Homo sapiens: one gene and its partner. The protein of the gene in region 1 purifies or fractionates together with the protein of each later gene. This does not show direct contact. Each region holds a gene or a part of one and is shown in the gene's direction. Other genes may lie near its edges.

Region 1 (3,674 bases):
ACACCAGCAAACCGTGAAGGAGAATGGGACACTGGGTCATGGCCTGGAGTTGCTGATAATTTAGGTGGGATAGATACTTGGTCTACTTAAGCTCAATGTAACCCAGAGCCCACCATATAGTTTTATAGGTGCTCAATTTTCTATATCGCTATTAAACTTTTTTCTTTTTTTCTAAAAACTAGCTGGGCCCAAAGTTTCAAACAACAGCCGGGCACACATAGCTAGCTGGTCGATGAGGCAGCACCCAGAATGGCCGCTGTCTTGTTAAGCTCAAGCTCCAGCCTGAGCAACATAGTGAAACCCCAATTCTACACACACACACACACACAAAGAAGACTGCAGGGCTGGTGGTGCAGCGCCTGTAGTCCCAGTTACTGCAGAGGTGGAGATGGGAGGATCACTTGAGTCCAAAAGGTCAAGACCAGCCTGGAGGCTGGGCGCAGTGACTCACACCTGTAATCCTAGCACTTTGGGAGGCCGAGGCAGGCGGATCACCTGAGTGTAGGAGTTCGAGAGCAGCCTGGCCAACATGGAGAAACCTCGTCTCTACCAAAAATACAAAAATTAGCCGGGCGGCTGGGCGCGGTGACTCACGCCTGTAATCCCAGCACTTTGGGAGGCCAAGGCGGGTGGATAACAAGATTAGGAGATCGAGACCATCCTGGCTAATACGGTGAAAGCCCGTCTCTACTAAAAATACAAAAAATTAGCCGGGTGTGGTGGCAGGCGCCTGCAGTCCCAGCTACTCGGGAGGCTGAGGCAGAAGAATGGCGGGAACCCGGGAGGCGGAGCTGGCAGTGAGCCAAGATCGTGCCACTGCACTCCAGCCTGGGTGATAGAGCGAGACTCCGTCTCAAAAAAAAAAGCCACGCATGGTGGTGGGCGCCTGTAATCCCAGTTACTCGGGAGGCTGAGACAGGAGAATCGCTTGAACCCAGGAGGCGGAGGTTGCAGTGAGCTGAGATCACGCCACTGCACTCTAGCCTGGGCGACAGAACAAGACTCCGTCTCAAAAAAAACCAAAAAAAATTTAGAGGGGCGTGCACGCCTGTATTCCCAGCACTCCAGGAGGCTGAAGCAGGAGGATCGCTAGAACCAGGGGTTCAAGACTGGGGCGAGCTATGATGGTGCCCCTGCACTCTAGCCTGGGCGACAGGGCGAGACTGTCTCAAAAGAAAAAAAGACCAGGCGCGGTGGCTCACACCTGTAATCCTAGCACTTCAGGAGACCAAGACTGGAGGATCGCTGGAGCCCAGGAGTTCCAGACCAGTCCTGGCAACAGAACTAGACCGTGTCTCCAAAAAAAAAGAGAAAGAAAAAATAGAAACCTTAGCTGGGCTTGGTGGTGCGCATCTGTGGTCCCAGATACTCGGGACGCTGAGGCGGGAGGATCACATGAGCCCAGGAGGTTGAGGCTGCAGTGAGGTATGATCGCGCCACTGCACTCCTGCCTGGGCAACTGAGCATGAACCCTCCTCAAAGCTAATGGCGCTTCAAAATTCTGCAGTGCAAAGAAGTTGCTGGGGTTGCGGAGCGGAGAACCGCCAGGAGGCTGGAGCCCAGCCAGGCAGCCTCCTCGGGCACACGGTGAAGGCGCCGGAACTACAGCTACCTCCGCGGCGCCGCTTCGGCCGCCATATCTGGGTACACGGGAACCGCAGAGGACAAACTCTCACCCGCGTTTTCGATTTCTGCGCTTTCTTCGAGTGAGGCAAGACCTAGCAGAGGCCCAAGGTAGAGCGCGGCTAGGATTCGATGGAGGGAAACATAAAGGATAGCCTTTGGAGGGTGACGGGCAAGGACGTACGTACCGCGAACGGAATGGGGCGGGGGCCGAGGACGCCGAGGGAGGGGCGGGCCCAAGTGTGAAGGGAGTCTGGGCGATACCATTTTGGGCAGGGGTTGAGGGTGATACCAACTTAATGGGAGGCGGGTGGCAGAGAACCGAGGCTTAGGGGCAGTGGCGGGGCCGAGCGCGGGTGGGGGATCGCGGAGGGACAGGACGGTCGCCCACTGCTCCATTTCCTTTCTCCCCAGCCCGTCCCTCCCTGCCAGGAGCAGCCTCATGCGGACCGAGCCGCTGTGCGGGGCATCCCCTCTGCTGGTGCCCGGCGACCCCTACTCTGTGGTGGTTCTGCTGCAGGGCTACGCGGAGCCAGAGGGTGTGGGCGATGCCGTGCGCGCCGACGGCTCCGTGACCCTGGTCCTACCCCAGACCCGGGGCCCGGCCTCCAGCCACCGAGAGTCCCCGCGCGGGAGTGGCGGCGCAGAGGCCGCCCTGGAGGAGGCGGCCCGTGGCCCCATCCTGGTGGACACCGGGGGCCCCTGGGCTCGGGAGGCGCTGCTGGGGGCGCTGGCGGGGCAGGGCGTGGCCCCGGGAGACGTGACGCTAGTGGTGGGGACCCACGGGCACTCGGATCACATCGGGAACTTGGGGCTGTTCCCAGGCGCGGCTCTGCTGGTCTCGCACGACTTCTGCCTTCCCGGAGGCCGCTACCTGCCCCACGGGCTGGGTGAGGGGCAGCCCCTGCGCCTGGGCCCGGGGCTCGAGGTGTGGGCCACGCCGGGCCACGGGGGCCAGCGCGACGTGAGCGTGGTGGTGGCCGGCACGGCTCTGGGCACCGTGGTGGTGGCGGGAGATGTGTTTGAGCGAGATGGGGACGAGGATTCGTGGCAGGCACTGAGTGAAGACCCCGCAGCCCAGGAGCGGAGCCGGAAGAGGGTCCTGGTCGTTGCCGACGTGGTCGTACCTGGTCACGGGCCCCCCTTTCGAGTGTTAAGGGAAGCCTCGCAGCCCGAGACGGAGGGTGGAGGGAACAGCCAGCAGGAGCCGGTGGTCGGAGACGAGGAGCCCGCCCTGCACTAATCAGCCTCGAGAGGGACTGCACTCTTGTCAGGGAAGCCCTAACAGCGAAGAGCTGCTGGAGACAGAGTCAGAGCAGTCAAGGGTGGGAGCTTCCAGCCCTTCCAGGAGGCCAGTTTTCTAGTGAAGACAGAGTGCACCTGACACTGCCATCACATCGTCAGTATCACTGCCTGTCTCTGCCACCAAACTAAGATCAAAGGAGGGGCTCAGCTCCCTGTGCATTCTCCCTGGGCCTCAGTAAAATGGGAGAAGGTTCGTGGGAGGGGCCTCCAAAATAAAAATGGAAACTGCATTGAAAATCATAGTGCCCTAGTGTAAATGTGAAGCATTGACAATGATAATCGTGCAAACATGGTAATCTACAACTACAGCAGAGGCATACTTTGGCCAATTGCCCCTTTCTTATAGGATGGAGGTTGCTGAGAGAAGGTACAGGGCATAAAGATGACCCCTTAGTCACCTGACTTATGTATTTGTTCATATTTTTTTGTCACACAGGCTAGAGTGCAGTTGTGCAGTCATAGCTCACTGCAGCCTCCAGCTTAAGCCATCCACCTGCCTCAGCCTCCCAAGTAGCTGGGATGACAGGCAAGTGCCACTATGCCCCACTAATTTTTTTTTTTTTTTGAAACACGGTTTCACTCTGTCCCCACAGGCTGCAATGCAATAGCACAATCTTGTACTGCAGACTGCACTGCAACCTCTGCCTCCTGGGTTCAATTGGTTCTTGTGCCTCAGCCTTCCCAGCAGCTGGGATTACAGGCTCACACTACCATGTCCAGCTAATTTTTATATTTTTAGTAGAGAA
Region 2 (3,502 bases), on another chromosome or scaffold:
AGGAGGCGGAGGTTGCAGTGAGCCGAGATTGCACCACTGCACTCCAGCCTGGGCAACAGAGTGAGACTTTGTCTCAAAAAAAAAAAAAAAAAATTAGCTGGATGTGGTGGCACATGCTTGTAATCCCAGCTTCTTGGGAGGGTGAGACACAGGAATTGCTTGAACCCAGGAGGTGGAGGTTACAGTGAGCCAAGATTGTGCCATTACATAGCCTGGGCTGAGCAAGACTCTGTCTCAAAAAAAAAAAAAAAAAGCACTGGTCTAAGCTACTTCCTGGAGCTTTGATTTTTAAAAGAAACTGTCACTGTCTAGCCTGTGACTGATGAATGTATGTGATTGCCCTCTGGAAAAGTATGATATGCTTGGCAATTTGAAGTATTCTTAGAATAATACTTTAAATTATTCCCAACTAAACTGTGTCCAAAATAGGTCCTTGATAAGCTAATCCTTACTTGGCCCCCTTCATTTCCAACCCTTTGAAATTCACTCTGCTCCTTTCTCCTGATCTTCTGGAAGTTTCTTTCTGAATCTAGAGAAACTCTCCTCACCAGAGAGGAATGATGTAAGCAGGCTCAATTAAATGCCCGCTGTGTATAATGAAGCATATTGTTAGGTGCAGCATGGGACATAGAAGTTCAAAGACTATAGCTCTTGAGGATATCTTTATTTAGTTGGAAATACAAGACAGAAACATTCAAAGTAAAGTAAATTTATTCCTTATATTTAGGTAGCCCTTGTTCATCTACCTCTTCTGAAATTTTGCAATAATTCTGTGATGTTGGTAGGAAGGGAATGTGATGTTAGATAAGAAGTCAGATGGCCGGCACATCCATCTGACAGCCACACCACTGATATTAAGGGATTTGTTAATGTCATATGGCTCCTAAAGAGCTAGGATATGCATCCATATCTTCCAGCTCCAAGTACGAGTTTTTTTCTTTTTAAAAAATATTGTGTCACATTATACCCTCTAATGCCAAATTCATTTAAAATAAAGAAAAAGCCATATAAGATTGCAGAAGTAATTTTGGTGGTTGTGGTAGTTAAGAGGCAAGAAATCATTTGAAAGAGTTTGGGGAGTCTTCAGTGAAGAAGGATAATGTAGCAGTACCTTGAAAGATGAGCAGGACTTATCTGGGCAGACAAAGAGGATGAGAAATCCAAGAGAGGGGATGAGATGGAAAAAAACACAGTATGTTCAAAGAATAATGATTAGACCAGTATCCTCAGGCGATGTGAAATCTAGATTGTTTCAGTACAGTTGAATGCGTCATCTAAATTTCCCAGGTGTGGGAATCAGTGTTTAGGGTAGAGGGATCACACAATTGGTTCCTTTTTTACTTCATGCTCTTGCACAGAATCCACTGTGTAGAATTAGGGAGACATGACTTCAGATACCTGACTGGTGGAATTAAAGGTGGGAGTTTCTAATCTGGGTTGTGTTTCATGGACTACCCCGTGTACTTTCTACAGGCAGTGTGTTGCTTGTTTTGGATAGTTGGGAGCAGCTTCGCTCACCTTAAGGAACTGTGGGTAGATGGTTTGCAGGACCACATACACACACAAAATAGCCGACTAAAGAAAGCGGTGGAGATCGAGATCAGTAAGTTTGATTTGGGAACAAAACCCTGGAGACTCTATAGGTAGGTGACTGTTGGGGGTGGACAGGCGCTGAAGACTTGGATTGGTTTAGACCTAGAAGGAAGTGGCATTTGATTGGTTATTATAAGTGAAAAGGGCCCCTCCCCGGGTGAGATATGCCAGCCCCATAATTAGGACCTGAAAATCTCTGCCAGGCCTGCCTTTGTGACGTGGCCCAGTCTACCTCAGCTATGGAACAGGCCTTGACTGGTGAGGCCCAAAGCCGGTGGCCCCGCAGAGGCGGGAGTGGGGCCATGGCTGAGGCGCCTGGGCCCAGTGGCGAATCCCGAGGACACTCAGCCACTCAGCTGCCAGCGGAAAAAACTGTCGGGGGACCATCGAGGGGCTGCTCAAGCTCCGTGCTCAGAGTGTCCCAGTTGGTGCTCCAGGCCATCTCCACTCACAAAGGGCTGACTCTGGCAGCTCTCAAGAAGGAGCTCCGAAACGCCGGCTACGAAGTGCGCAGGAAGAGCGGCCGCCACGAAGCGCCCAGGGGGCAGGCCAAGGCCACGCTCCTCCGGGTCAGCGGCAGCGACGCCGCCGGCTACTTCAGGGTCTGGAAGGTTCCCAAGCCCAGGAGAAAGCCGGGACGCGCGAGGCAAGAGGAGGGCACGCGCGCTCCCTGGAGGACCCCAGCCGCGCCCCGGAGCTCCCGGAGGCGCCGCCAGCCCCTTCGCAAGGCGGCCAGGAAGGCCAGAGAAGTGTGGAGACGGAACGCGAGGGCGAAAGCCAAGGCCAATGCCAGGGCGAGGAGGACCAGGAGGGCAAGGCCGAGAGCCAAGGAGCCGCCGTGTGCCAGAGCCAAGGAGGAAGCGGGAGCGACAGCGGCAGACGAGGGGCGAGGACAGGCCGTGAAGGAAGACACCACGCCGAGGTCAGGGAAGGACAAGAGGCGAAGCTCCAAGCCCAGGGAAGAGAAGCAGGAGCCCAAGAAGCCCGCACAGCGGACCATCCAGTAGCCAACGCGGGCTAAAACCGACCGGACATCTAGCGGGCAGGGGAAGACTCCACTAAAGACTTCCACAAAGACCTCCCCTAAATCTGAAGGTCTTCCTGATCCAGTTGGGAATGCATCTTGTGGGAGCAGCTTCACTCCCACCACGGACCAATGCCTTTCCCCCATAGGCCCCAAGAAGAGCGGCTGTCACACTCATTGAAATGAAATGGACCTCTAGACCACCTTGTGTCTGTTTCCTCTTTGCCGCACCTGGAAGGGAAGGGGTGGGTGGTGGTAACGTTCAGTGAAGACAGTAAATTAGCTGAGATTCTGTTCCTGCTGCAGAACTCAGAGAAATGTCTTTTAGAAGGAGAGAAAACAGAGGAAAACCAGCAGCTTAACAAGTGTTGAAGTATTGTTAGATACTCTAGCAAATCCAAATTGAGTTCTGGGGAGGAAGGCATGTTGGGAAAAGAGTAGACAGTCTTTAAGTTGAGTGGTCCCACTGATTCAAAGTGTTCTTACCTGAAATTCCTTTTAGGACAAAGTCCTCCCAAAATTGATTATAATGAGTTTGTAGTTTTTGCCTTGAATTGATAACCTATTTTAATTTAAAAGATATTCTTATGTCAATCCTCAGTTAAATAAGTGTATGAAAGCATCCAGCATAGGGCCTGGCATAGGATAGGTACTCATCACTGAGAGTTAAATATGTGTATAATTAATTCCCGATGGAGTGGTAATGTGCTATAGCAGAAAACTGCTGGACCACTATGTAGTAAGACCAAGATTCTAGTCAAAGTTCTGCTAGTCTGACCTTTGCTGAGTTATTTCTTAACCATTCATGGTCTTGGTTTTCTTCTCAGTAAAATGTTGGGATTGAGCTAAGATGATTTCTAGGTGATTTAAATGTCAGTAAAATGA

What was found.
Region 2: the proteins of MBLAC1 (region 1) and H1-7 purify together in Homo sapiens (affinity purification with mass spectrometry; 2 studies listed by BioGRID and IntAct, with this or other methods). This does not show direct contact.

Annotation. Positions count from the first base shown.
Region 1 is NC_000007.14:100,125,331-100,129,004, forward strand, and holds MBLAC1 (metallo-beta-lactamase domain-containing protein 1), read left to right. Parts: upstream 1-1,636; 5' UTR 1,637-1,734; exon of another isoform or gene 1,735-1,841; intron 1,842-2,037; 5' UTR 2,038-2,065; coding exon 2,066-2,866; 3' UTR 2,867-3,165; downstream 3,166-3,674. UniProt on the Homo sapiens protein: Endoribonuclease that catalyzes the hydrolysis of histone-coding pre-mRNA 3'-end. Involved in histone pre-mRNA processing during the S-phase of the cell cycle, which is required for entering/progressing through S-phase.
Region 2 is NC_000012.12:48,327,460-48,330,961, forward strand, and holds H1-7 (testis-specific H1 histone), read left to right. Parts: upstream 1-1,520; 5' UTR 1,521-1,832; coding exon 1,833-2,600; 3' UTR 2,601-2,820; downstream 2,821-3,502. UniProt on the Homo sapiens protein: Essential for normal spermatogenesis and male fertility. Required for proper cell restructuring and DNA condensation during the elongation phase of spermiogenesis.